Homo sapiens: one gene and its partners. The protein of the gene in region 2 interacts with the protein of the main gene of each other region in a pairwise test. Each region holds a gene or a part of one and is shown on either strand. Other genes may lie near its edges.

Evidence for each region. Proteins that work in one complex are often made in the same cells at the same time.
Region 1: the proteins of DNAJB6 (region 2) and IFI35 interact in binary tests that used the Homo sapiens proteins (3 or more experiments, as listed by UniProt).
Region 3: the proteins of DNAJB6 (region 2) and AMBN interact in binary tests that used the Homo sapiens proteins (3 or more experiments, as listed by UniProt).
Region 4: the proteins of DNAJB6 (region 2) and THAP3 interact in binary tests that used the Homo sapiens proteins (3 or more experiments, as listed by UniProt).

Annotation. Positions count from the first base shown.
Region 1 is NC_000017.11:43,012,370-43,014,956, forward strand, and holds the end of IFI35 (interferon-induced 35 kDa protein), read left to right. Parts: intron 1-677; coding exon 678-825; intron 826-897; coding exon 898-1,004; coding exon of another isoform or gene 1,005-1,010; intron 1,011-1,106; coding exon 1,107-1,293; intron 1,294-1,406; coding exon 1,407-1,513; intron 1,514-1,738; coding exon 1,739-1,930; 3' UTR 1,931-2,087; downstream 2,088-2,587. UniProt on the Homo sapiens protein: Acts as a signaling pathway regulator involved in innate immune system response.
Region 2 is NC_000007.14:157,382,004-157,385,503, reverse strand, and holds part of DNAJB6 (dnaJ homolog subfamily B member 6), read right to left. Parts: intron 3,259-3,500; coding exon 3,127-3,258; intron 638-3,126; coding exon 496-637; intron 1-495. UniProt on the Homo sapiens protein: Has a stimulatory effect on the ATPase activity of HSP70 in a dose-dependent and time-dependent manner and hence acts as a co-chaperone of HSP70. Plays an indispensable role in the organization of KRT8/KRT18 filaments.
Region 3 is NC_000004.12:70,605,022-70,607,788, reverse strand, and holds the end of AMBN (ameloblastin precursor), read right to left. Parts: intron 1,605-2,767; coding exon 1,059-1,604; 3' UTR 501-1,058; downstream 1-500. UniProt on the Homo sapiens protein: Involved in the mineralization and structural organization of enamel.
Region 4 is NC_000001.11:6,630,965-6,634,062, forward strand, and holds the end of THAP3 (THAP domain-containing protein 3), read left to right. Parts: intron 1-1,405; coding exon of another isoform or gene 1,406-1,426; coding exon 1,427-1,531; intron 1,532-1,831; coding exon 1,832-2,113; 3' UTR 2,114-2,598; downstream 2,599-3,098. UniProt on the Homo sapiens protein: Component of a THAP1/THAP3-HCFC1-OGT complex that is required for the regulation of the transcriptional activity of RRM1.

The DNA.
Region 1 (2,587 bases), on a different chromosome or scaffold from region 2:
CAAGGGGGCCTGATCACCTCAGGTCAGGAGTTTGAGACCAGCCTGGCCAACACAGTGAAATCCCATCTCTACTAAAAATACAAAAATTAGGCCGGGCGCAGTGGCTCACGCCTGTAATCCCAGCACTTTGGGAGGCCGAGGCTGGTGGATCACCTGAGGTCAGTTTGAGACCAGCCTGGCCAACAGGGTGAAACCCCGTCTCTACTAAAAATACAAAAATTAGCTGGGTTTGGTGGCACATGCCTGTAATCCCAGCTACTTGGGAGGCTGAGTCCGAATTGCTTGAACCTGGGAAGTGGAGGTTGCAGTGAGCCAAGATCATGCCACTACACTCCAGCTGGGTGACAGAGCAAGACTCCCTTTAAAACAAAGAAACACAAAAAAGAGCTGGGGAGTTCTCGGTTTTATTCCTGGCTCTGCTACTTCCTTGCTGTGTGACCTCCATTATGTTACTTGAACATCTGTAAAGTAGAGCTACCCACCTCCCAGGACAAATTAAGATGTTGTATGTAAATTGCCCTGTATGGACCAGACCTGCATTCATCCACTCATTTATCCAGCTTTTCTTTCAGTAAATGTATTTATCTCCGGCACTCAGCATCAATGGAATGGAATCGGAGATGCCTTCCTCCTAGGTGGGAGTGAGGAACACTCCTACTCCCCTCCCCTACTTCCAGGTCCCATTTTCAGTGCCCAAGATCCCCCTGGTATTCCGAGGACACACCCAGCAGGACCCGGAAGTGCCTAAGTCTTTAGTTTCCAATTTGCGGATCCACTGCCCTCTGCTTGCGGGCTCTGCTCTGATCACCTTTGATGACCCCAAAGGTAAGCTCATGGGGAGCCTCAGGAGGGAGGTGGGGAGGGTTCCCAGTACTGACCCTGTTTCCCACCACCCAGTGGCTGAGCAGGTGCTGCAACAAAAGGAGCACACGATCAACATGGAGGAGTGCCGGCTGCGGGTGCAGGTCCAGCCCTTGGAGCTGCCCATGGTCACCACCATCCAGGTGATGGTATGACAGAATCCTGGGGCATGCAAAGCATGCCATGCACCTGGGCATGGGGAAGTGGAGCTGTGTCTGGGACCACCCCTTGCTGTCTCCCCCTAGATGTCCAGCCAGTTGAGTGGCCGGAGGGTGTTGGTCACTGGATTTCCTGCCAGCCTCAGGCTGAGTGAGGAGGAGCTGCTGGACAAGCTAGAGATCTTCTTTGGCAAGACTAGGAACGGAGGTGGCGATGTGGACGTTCGGGAGCTACTGCCAGGGAGTGTCATGCTGGGGTTTGCTAGGGATGGAGGTGAGGGCTATGCAGGCCTCCTGCAGGGGAGAGGGTATAGGGTGTGCAAGATTACGGTGCAGGGAGAGGAGAGGGCTTGATGCTAAAGGCCCACCCCTCCTTGCTCCCCACAGTGGCTCAGCGTCTGTGCCAAATCGGCCAGTTCACAGTGCCACTGGGTGGGCAGCAAGTCCCTCTGAGAGTCTCTCCGTATGTGAACGGGGAGATCCAGAAGGCTGAGGTAAGCAGGAGGGGTGAAGAACAGGGGCTGGGCTGGGTAACCTGTCTGCCTGCCAGGAACTTGCCCAATGAAGGATCAGAGGCCCCAAACCCCACTGACCTACCTACCCACCATCAGCCTCTCCAGGCCTCCCGACCTCATACCCCCATGGGGCACTGCCTGCCCTACCCCCAGCCCCCAGCCCTTCTCCCATGAGCCTTTGCCATCTCCTGGCTCCTTTTCCAGATCAGGTCGCAGCCAGTTCCCCGCTCGGTACTGGTGCTCAACATTCCTGATATCTTGGATGGCCCGGAGCTGCATGACGTCCTGGAGATCCACTTCCAGAAGCCCACCCGCGGGGGCGGGGAGGTAGAGGCCCTGACAGTCGTACCCCAAGGACAGCAGGGCCTAGCAGTCTTCACCTCTGAGTCAGGCTAGGGGCCTCCCCTTCTCATCCTCCCCACCCCCCCGCCAAGGTTCTCACACTGGCCTGGGCTTGGGTGCCCATATAGGAGGTCTGTATGTTCACCAACAGTGCGGAGGGGTCACACATTGCAAAACACTGCCCAGAACAGTAAAAAGAGCCTGCATGCCATGATGTTCTTCCTCATTTCACTCATGAAAGGAAACGTGATTTGGGCATGGAAAGAGGCAGGGGGCAGGAAGCAGCCCAGATCTTCTGCTGGCAGCACTAGCCTTCCAGGAGCTCACCTTCCCTCCACTCTCAGAGGCAACAAGCAGGACCCAGGGTTTGGCTTTTTATTGACACAAACACACAAAGGCAGCTGTGGTAATGGGGTGGTGGGGTACACAAAAGCAGAAATCGCACTTCACACATTTAGGCCTCATTTAGACAATGAGGAGGCTGAGCCTGTCCCTCCACCTCCCATTGCAATGGTTGGGGCAATAACCCTCCCTAATCCTAGCTCAGTGAGTAGAGGGAGTGACCTCCCTACCCAGGAAGTCCCCATTTTGGTTGCAATGGCCCAGGTCCTGACCATCCCACTCTGTACTTCCCTGCTCCATCTCCCCACCCATGTAAACAGAGTTTTGGGCTGAGTTTGATAAGCTGCCTCTCTGCTTTGAGAAGGCAGT
Region 2 (3,500 bases):
AAGAAAATGCATGTGTGAGGGTAACTAAGTTGTTTAAGGACATTACTGAAATACACCATGAATATAAGTAATTTTCAGGCTGTAAAAACATGGCTGAAGCCAACCTGTCAACAACACATCTTCCTTTCCTAAAATAGAATTAACCTGACAAAATAAATTGTGTCTCAAATACCGTACAGGCGGATGCTAAATACATGCAGAGGCTATAAAACAGTAAAGGCTTTACTATTAATGATTTTCCATTTTACCATTTTAACAATGCTGCAGAAACTTATTACACTGTATTACATTAAAGATTCCCTCTAATAATTCAACAGTTAAGTAAAATTTAAGAGAAAAGGCTTTAATTAATGAATTTGGAGAGCAAAAGATTTTCATGGCGCCAGATTTAGCATACAACAACCTCTACTTCACACTCTGGGAGACGTGCAACATGGCACCAGTGAAACGTTACGCCTGCTTACTAAAAATATAAAATGCAGAATACCACAGTACCTCTTTGTAGTGATTTTTCTGCCATTAACCATTTTAGTTGAAGTTGATATCGATTTGAAGTTGCCCATGCCACTACCACCAAATGACGTGGAAGAGAATGAAGTGAGGCCCCCGTGACCTAGTGACCCAAATGAAGTAAATCCTACAGGAAAACAGAAAAGAAAAATGCTTAAAGAAATATGTCAACTAGTAATGCAAAGACAAGAGTTTGAAAGTTCAGTAGCAGAATATTTAATGTTAAGGCATAGAACCGAGGAGTAATAAACGACGCAACTATCAAGGCCTCAGCTGAAGTGCTGGGGTGCCCAGGGGGAAAGACTGTCTCTCAGATCCCTGAGTGGGGACTCTAGGGCAACGCGAGAGTGCAGCCTCTCCCCTCCCCCTCTCCTCATGCAGAGCTTCGCGGGACCCAAGCAGCTTTTCTGACATGCCAAAGACAGCCCCTGCTTGTGGGTGGTCTGCTTGGCACCATGAAGCACGTGTTGTGTTAATGTGAACATTCTGGAACCGAGACCAGTATTAAGCTCCAACCAGCAGAGCAGCCTCGGTATCAAGCTCTGTTTGCTTTGGCGTGGCTTGTAAACTCCACAGACTGTGATGGACACTCTTACCCCACAGGAACAGAGTGACCTCACCACCACAGAACAGCAAACCTAATCGGCTTCCCTCCTCTTTGCCACAGGACCACAGGGGATAAGAATCTAAATTATTAAAAAACTAAAATAATTGCAGAAAGAATACAAGTATTCGTCTCAAAAAACTATGGTTCTACAGTTCATGAACACCATTCTCAATTATACATTATGGATATTATCGCAGTGTGGACACTAAAAACTTTCACAAGTCACACTAAAGCAAACCTATTTTTCGATATTAAAGCTGGTCTACTGGTTAGAGCTTTTGTCCTGTTTCCAAAATGCTCCCATTAACACAAATGACGCATACCTCTGAACATGATTCAATCATCTAAGCGCAGATACTGTCTAGGGCTGGTGGTGTCCTGAAGAAATATGTGAACCAGGTATGTTAAGTTTACCTTTTCTAATGATTTCACTAAAAAGCAGAAACTAGTGACATTAATTTTAGTATTTTATTTAATACAGTATATCCAAAATATTTCAATTGGAAATACAAAAAATCAAAATCATTTGCGGTATTTTACACTGCTTCCCATGTTCCATCTTTGAAACCCAATGACTATTTCACACTCCTGCTGATCTCCGTTAGGAGTAGCCAGGCCTCCAGGGCTCAGGAGCTACACGTGGCTGGTGGCTACTGCACTGGTCTCAATTAAGCCTCGCTAAGTATTTATTCTTGTGATACTTTGTAAGGCACCTCAGAAGTGGAGAAGGCTTACACCCCCACCACACACACACACACACACACACACACACACAAACACACATACAGGAGCCACTGATTACTTTTAAAAAGGACAATTTACGTGGTATTTTTAACTAGCTTTCTTAACCTGTGGTCAGCATATTCCATGGTATCAAATGAGAGGATCTGTTGAGGGAAAGCACATCAAAACTGAGGTCCAATCGAGCAGAATTCACTACTTACCTAGATGGCATGAGCGCAATGTTCAAAGAAAATAAAATTCTGACCATGATGAAGAAGGAACCCTATATAACAAGCTCTCCCAATTCTTATCGTGGAGGCTTAAAAATAAAAATGAGAGAATCAAAACAGCAGCTCCAGGCCAGGAGTGGTGGCTCATGCCTGTAATCCTAGCACTTTGGGAGGCCAAGACGGGTGGATCCACCCGAGGTCAGTTCAACACCAGCCTGGCCAACACGACAAAAACCCTGTCTCCATTAAAAATACAAAAATTAGCTGGGCCTGCTGGTGCACACCTGTGATCCCAGCTACTCAGGAGGCTGAGGCACAAGAATCACTTCAACCCAGGAGGCGGGAGGCTGCAGTGAGCTGAGACCGTGCCACTACACTAAGAGTGGCACTCACTAAAGTGAGACTCTTTTTAAATTTAAAAACAAAACACAACAAAAAAAAAAGCTCCTTTGTGAAGAGAAACTGGATGAGCTTCAGAGAAAAGTGGGATTCTTCAGGCTAAACACACAGGCATATCATGATATATGCATATTCATGTTACTCCAGTCTACAAGCTTGTTTCCATCGGTGAACTATGAAGAGCTACGTGCGTGAGGCTGACACTTCACTAGTGAGTGAGCCTGGCCTGGGCTAGTGGTAAGGCCCAGCCTTCGATTCCATCCAGTGGGATGCTCCTAGGATGCTATTTGTGCACTTTTGTTTTAACTACAAAGGAGGTTAGACAGCATGAAGGTTAGTGAGATTTTCCAACTGCGTTACTTTCCACCTACTGATGCAGAACATATGTTGCCCCTTTTTAACTAAGAATTTCATTACATTCTGGCCTTGATTATTATATTAAGAGGAGAAGATTTCCAAGCACGACATTCTTAGGAAGATTAGGAGAAAATGTAGGTTAAGCGCAGACCTGTATACCAAAAAAAGCTGGCAAATCCACAATGCTATTCTACGAAAGGTATACACATATTTTAAAGCACTCTAACTAAAAGAGTATTATGATTTTATAAGTACTAACTGCTGTTAAGATAACAGAGATTAAACCTAGGGATTTAATACCTGTATCAAAAGAAGAAAATCCACTTCCAAAAGACGGAAATCCACTGAACGCAGAGAAAAACGACCCCGTCCCTCGGCTTCTGCTTCCTCGGGGACCCCTTCGATTCCCAAAGAAGTCCTCAAAAGGGTCTTCTAAAATCAAACATAAACACACACTATGAAGTCTTTTTTTCAAGTTTTTTTCCTCATGTGATAGCTACAGTAAGAGAAAATAGATGTTTGTAACATATTCAGGAACAAAAAACTTAAGAGGTTTTAACAAAAGAGCTTATCTACAGAGTAACTGAAACACTACCTCACCAACAGTTTTACTAACTAGTTTAATTCAACTAAAACTACAATACATTGTATCAAATAAATTACCAGACTTAATT
Region 3 (2,767 bases), on a different chromosome or scaffold from region 2:
CTCTTTTTCTGTTTCTTCCTCTTGGAGAGTGAGGGCTCTCGCTCTTGAAACCGTTTCTAGAAACTGTTCTGAGAAAACTTGTCTGATTCCTCCTAGACTCTCCGATGACCCTCAGGCTGGGTTAGGCACTTCTTCTCTGTGGCTCCAGGGGCACCCTGTGCTTGGCCTTTTCATAGCACTTTTCACATGTGCTGTGGGGTTGAGTGTATCTATTTCACAGTATTGTTGTGGGATAATATATGTAAAGTAATTGAGCTTGGTCTAGGGTTTTGTTATGGTGATTGTCTACTTGTCAGTCATGTCCATTGTAAGCTTTGAAGGAAGGGACTGTATCTTTGATACCTTGCACTGCACCCAGGACATGAATATTCAGTAAAATTCTGATGAAAGAATGAATGAATTGAATACAATGAATTAAAGAGAAGCAAAGGTAGAGGATGAGTATGCTTTTCTTGAACCATTTAAATCTATATAAATAATAAGCATACAATTCCTGATAATTTCAGTGAGAAAAATTCTTTATTTAAAATAGGCTAGATTTTTTATACTAGATTAAATAAAATACTCTATAAATGAGAATTTTAAATTAAATTATACCAAACCCAGTAATACCAGTCAGGAGTTTTCCACCAATCCCCATTTAATAAAGTTTAAATGAATTAGCTTAGAATTATGAGGATATTTGCCTTTGCTTAGAGAAAAAAGCAGTGCCATGTTTCCTGAATATAATAGTGTCATGCTGGTAAGAGAAATTCTATAATGCTTAAGACAGCTAAGAAAAAGTGATGATCAAATGCTGAGACCCTTAGAACCTTGCTCTGATGTTATTAATAGTGTTTCTAAATCACAGAGACAATTGACACATTTTATTTCAACAAGATATTGAAAGCAAGAAGGGGACCTACACTATTTCTAGCCACTTGCATTTATTAATATATGCTTAGCGCTTTTAATGCCTTTGCTGCAGAAGGGTAATAAGTGTTTTAGCAAAAAGGTACACTGTGGGGACAAAGCTGGGAAGCTTGTGCATACAGAAAGTAGCTAATATCTTAGAGCTGTCAGGGCTCTTGGAAATGCCATGCGTCATGCATCATCTCGGGCTCCTGGGCTTTGTTTCCTGGCATGGATGTTTGCAGAGAGTTTGGGGCCATCGTGGTATCCATGGTTGCTTCTTCCTGGAAATCCACGGATGTGGTCATGTCAGCATCGTAGGTCCTATAAACATCAGCTAATTCAGGGGTCATCAGTGGGTCAGCAGCTGCTGGGGTGACGCTGGGGAGTCCCTTCATCTTCCCTGAAGGGCTCCTTGGCAGGCCGGGAATGTCATCCTTAGGGAGAGCAAGGAGCCCTGCGTGGGGAGCAGGTTCTAGCTCTGTAAGGAAAGCTGGGTTTTCTAGATTGTCTGGGTTGGCCTCCGGCATAGGGGAGCCTTGTGCACCTCCTTCTTCGTTCTCAGGGCCTTTGGTGGCAGCCACTGGGGAGTCAAATTCCAGAGTGAAGTCACCGCCCATAGCTGGGTTGTGGGGCATTCCCTCAAAGCCGGGCCTCATGCCTCCAAATCCTGGAAACATGGCTCCATAGGCCATTGGGTCTTCTCTCCCGCCCTGGAAAAAAAAACATTCGTCAAAGATGCCATCATCACATGCTATTAACTATACCATGCAGCTATACCTGGTCACATTCACCAAGGATCTCTAAAAAACTGGTGGAGAATAGGAAGTTGGCTGATTGATAGCTTTGTGTAAGCTCATTTCTCACTAAACTGGCTTTGAAACATAATGAAGAGGATTCTGCACTTATCTGGGTGGATCTCGGCATGATTTCCGTAAAAGGGAGATAACAGGGCAGAAGCAAGACTTGAGGCAAAGGTGAGTTTGAATTTAATTTTAAGAAAACAAGCAGTTGAAATGAGTACTACCATCACAAAACAAATAAGAACTGAAATTCATAACTGCATTTGTTGAGCGAGAATCTTGTCAATGGCATTTTTCAGTGTCCCCCAAATGAAGTTCCATGTACTTTTTTTTTCTTTTAGGGGTCTCATTATACGGCCCAGGCTGCTGGTCTAGAACTCCTAGGCTCAAGTGATCTTCTTGCCTCAGCCTCCCTAGTAGCTGGGATCACAGGGGTGAGACACTGCACCCAGCTAAGACTTTAATTTTTTTAAAGCACAAAGTTTAAGAAAAAAAATGTGACTTCCCTGGAGTAACTAAAATATTTTCTTCTTGTGGACAAATAGAATACCAGCACTGACCATGTTTCTTTTTCTACCTTTGCTGCCAGAAATATGGGGTCCAAAATCTTAGGCTGTTTGTAGCAATTGAGCAGGCCTGTGTGACTTGCATATCTGTATTCTGATTTTCTTGAAATTATGACTCATTTTAAATCCTACTTTCAATTTTTTGTTATATTTATTGTGTGTTTTTCATAAGCTCTACAAAATCTTTTGGGAATGAGGCAGAATAGAAATAATTAATACTATGTGATGGCAATTAACACTTACTTGAATTTTGAACTTCCAGCCACTTGTATTGGTGCTATATAGATACAATACTCTTTCCTTCTCCTTTCTCCTGACTCTTCATTCTCTCTCAGCTTTCACATCATCTCCTCCAGGGATGATACTGTGAATCCCTGGACTGGGCTAACTGCCCTTCCTCTCTGACTCTTTCTCTCTAATAAAATTGTTATTACTTTTAGCCCATGATTTTGACATTAGGTATCTGCCCTTGTACCTATCTTTTCCATTCATTAGACTGTAAGTTCC
Region 4 (3,098 bases), on a different chromosome or scaffold from region 2:
TCCCAAAGTGCTGGGAGTATAGATGTGAGTCACTGCACCCAACCTTTTTCTTTGTTTTTGAGACAGGGTCTCACTCTGTTGCTCAGGCTCTGTACAGTGGTGCAGTCATGGCTCGCAGCAGCCTCAACCTCCCAGGATCAAGCCATCCTCCCACCTGAGCCTCCCAAGTGGCTGGGACCACAAGCATGTGCTACCATGCCCAGCTAATTAAAAATTTTTTTTTTTTTTTTTTTTAGAAATGGGGGTCTTGCTATCTTGCCCAGTCTGGTCTCAAACTCTTGGATTCAGGGGATTCTCCTGCCTTGGCCCCACAAAGTGCTGGAATTATAGGCGGGAGCCACCGCACCTGGCCGTGCCTGATTTCTTAAAGTTCAGTTCCAGGGCCGGGCGAGGTGGCTCACGCTTATAATCCCAGCAGTTTGGGAGGCTGAGGCGGGTGGATGTCTTGAGGCTAGGAGTTTGAGACCAGCCTGGCCAACATAGTAAAAACCCCATCTCTACTAAAAATATAAAAATTAGCCGGGCTGGGCGCAGTGGCTTGCGTCTGTATTCCCAGCACTTTGGGAGGCCGAGGCAGGCGGATCACCTGAGGTTAGGAGTTCGAAACCAGCCTGGCCAACATGGTGAAACTCCATCTCTACTAAAAATACAAAAATTCGGCTGGGCCTGGTGGCTCACACCTGTAATCCTAGCACTTTGGCAGGCTGCGGCAGGTGGATTGCCTGAGGTCAGGAGTTCGAGACCAGCCTGGCGAAACCCCGTCTCTACTAAAAATACAAAAATTTAGCTGGGCATGGTGGTGGATGCCTATAATCCCAGCTACTCTGGAGGAGAATCACTTGAACCCAGGGGGCGGAGGTTGCAGTGAGCTGAGATCGCACCACTTCACTCCAGCCTGGGTGAAAGAGTGAAACTCCATCTCAAGAAAAAAAAAAATTAGCCAGGTGTAGTGGCATGTGCCTGTAGTCCCAGCTACTCAGGAGGCTGAGGCAGAATTGGTTGAACCCGGGAGGCAGAGGTTGCAGTGAGCCGAGATCATGCCACTGCACTCCAGCCTGGGTGACAGAGTTAGATTCCGTCTCAAAAAAAAAAAAAAAAAAATTTAGCCAGGCGTGGTGGCACATGCTTGTAATTCTAGCTACTCAGGAGGCTGAGGCACGAGAATCACCTGAACCCTGGGGGTGGAGGTTGCAGTGAGCCGAGATTGCACCACTGCACTCCAGCCTAAGTGACAGAGCGAGACTGTCTCAAAAAAAAAAAAAAGTTCAGTTCCAGGGTGTGTGCTAGGGAGAAGCTGGCTGTGGAGGGGCACAGACCCTGGAGCTGGTCCCTGGCTGTTGCCACTCCCCTAGAGGGACAAGTAGCAGCTGCAGGAGGGCCCTGCATGTGCAGGGCTGTAGTGCAGACTTCACCCTGCCGTTCCCAGGTCCTCCCTGAGGCGGGGGCCGGAGAGGACAGTCCTGGGAGAAACATGGACACTGCACTTGAAGAGCTTCAGTTGCCCCCAAATGCCGAAGGCCACGTAAAACAGGTAAGACTGAGTGCAAAGGTGGTCTGTGGTTGGACACAAGATGACTTGCTCCAAACAAAATGGAAACCAGTGAGCACCCACCATGAGACCTGTGTGGCCGAGGCAGGGTGTGCAGCCTGGGTTTCAGAGCTCCCCAGTCAAATTCTCCACCATGGTGTGGGCACATCTGGATTTTGGGGGAGCAGCCCGGAGTGTCTAGCTGCCCTGGGGTTGTGCTGTGTGCGTGTCTGGTGGCCTGCTCACCATGGCCCGCCTTCCTGCTGGTGATGCAGCTCTAGGCTCTCACTCCCCTGTCCTCAGGTCTCGCCACGGAGGCCGCAAGCAACAGAGGCTGTTGGCCGGCCGACTGGCCCTGCAGGCCTGAGAAGGACCCCCAACAAGCAGCCATCTGATCACAGCTATGCCCTTTTGGACTTAGATTCCCTGAAGAAAAAACTCTTCCTCACTCTGAAGGAAAATGAAAAGCTCCGGAAGCGCTTGCAGGCCCAGAGGCTGGTGATGCGAAGGATGTCCAGCCGCCTCCGTGCTTGCAAAGGGCACCAGGGACTCCAGGCCAGACTTGGGCCAGAGCAGCAGAGCTGAGCCCCACAGGCTCCGGACGCAGAGGTGGCAGTGGCACCAGGGCCGGCAGAGCTTTGGAGCTCTGGCTGTGGACATTTTTGTCTGCTGTGGACACTGAGAAAGTTGGCCATGAGGCCTGCTTGGCCGGGGATCGAGACAGTAGCCAAGCTCCCCGGCGAGAGCCCCAATGCCGTCTGGGGGACGTTTAGAGGCGTGGCACTAGGAGTGCACATCTGTGAGCATGACAAGCTTATCCTCCCATGGTAACAGAAGTCCAGGCTGAGGCTGATTCTGGACGCTGTCCTTTCAGCACACGCAGAGCAAAGATCGTTGGAAGCCCCAGTGTGGGAGATGCTCCTCAGGGAGGAAGCCATGTGAGGGGGCTGGCTCTGTGGCGGGTGAGTGGTCCCCTCCTCCATCAGCCTGGACAGCCGCTCGGGGTTCTAAGGAGTGACTCCTGTCCCGGCCTGGTGTGAGTGGGCAGTGTAATAAAGTGTCTTTCTATACGGTGTCGCTCCCATCATCATTTTCTCTAGTGCCGTGATTCCTTCTAAGAAGACTGACTTCCGTGGCCGGGCGCAGTGGCTCATGCCTGTAATCCCAGCACTTTGAGAGGCCGAGGTGGGGAGATCACTTGAGGTCAGGAGTTCAAGACCAGCCTGGCCAACATGGTGAAATCCCATGTCTACTAAAAAAGACACAAATTAGCCAGGCGTGGTGGCACACACCTGTAGTCCCAGCTACCTGGGAGGCTGAGACAGGAGGATCAGCTGAACCCGGGAGGTGGAGGTTGCAGTGAGCCGAGATCACACCACTGCCCTCTAGTATTGTCACTGGGTGACAGAGCGAGACTCAGTCTGAAAAAAAAAACTGACTTCCTATTTTGTCTAATTTATAGCTTTAGTGAATTAAAGAAAAAAGTTCTAGCCTGATTTCCTAACTTGGGGTCTATTTATTTCTCAGGCAATGTTGTTTAATGTAGAAAATGGAACCCCAGCTTCACGTG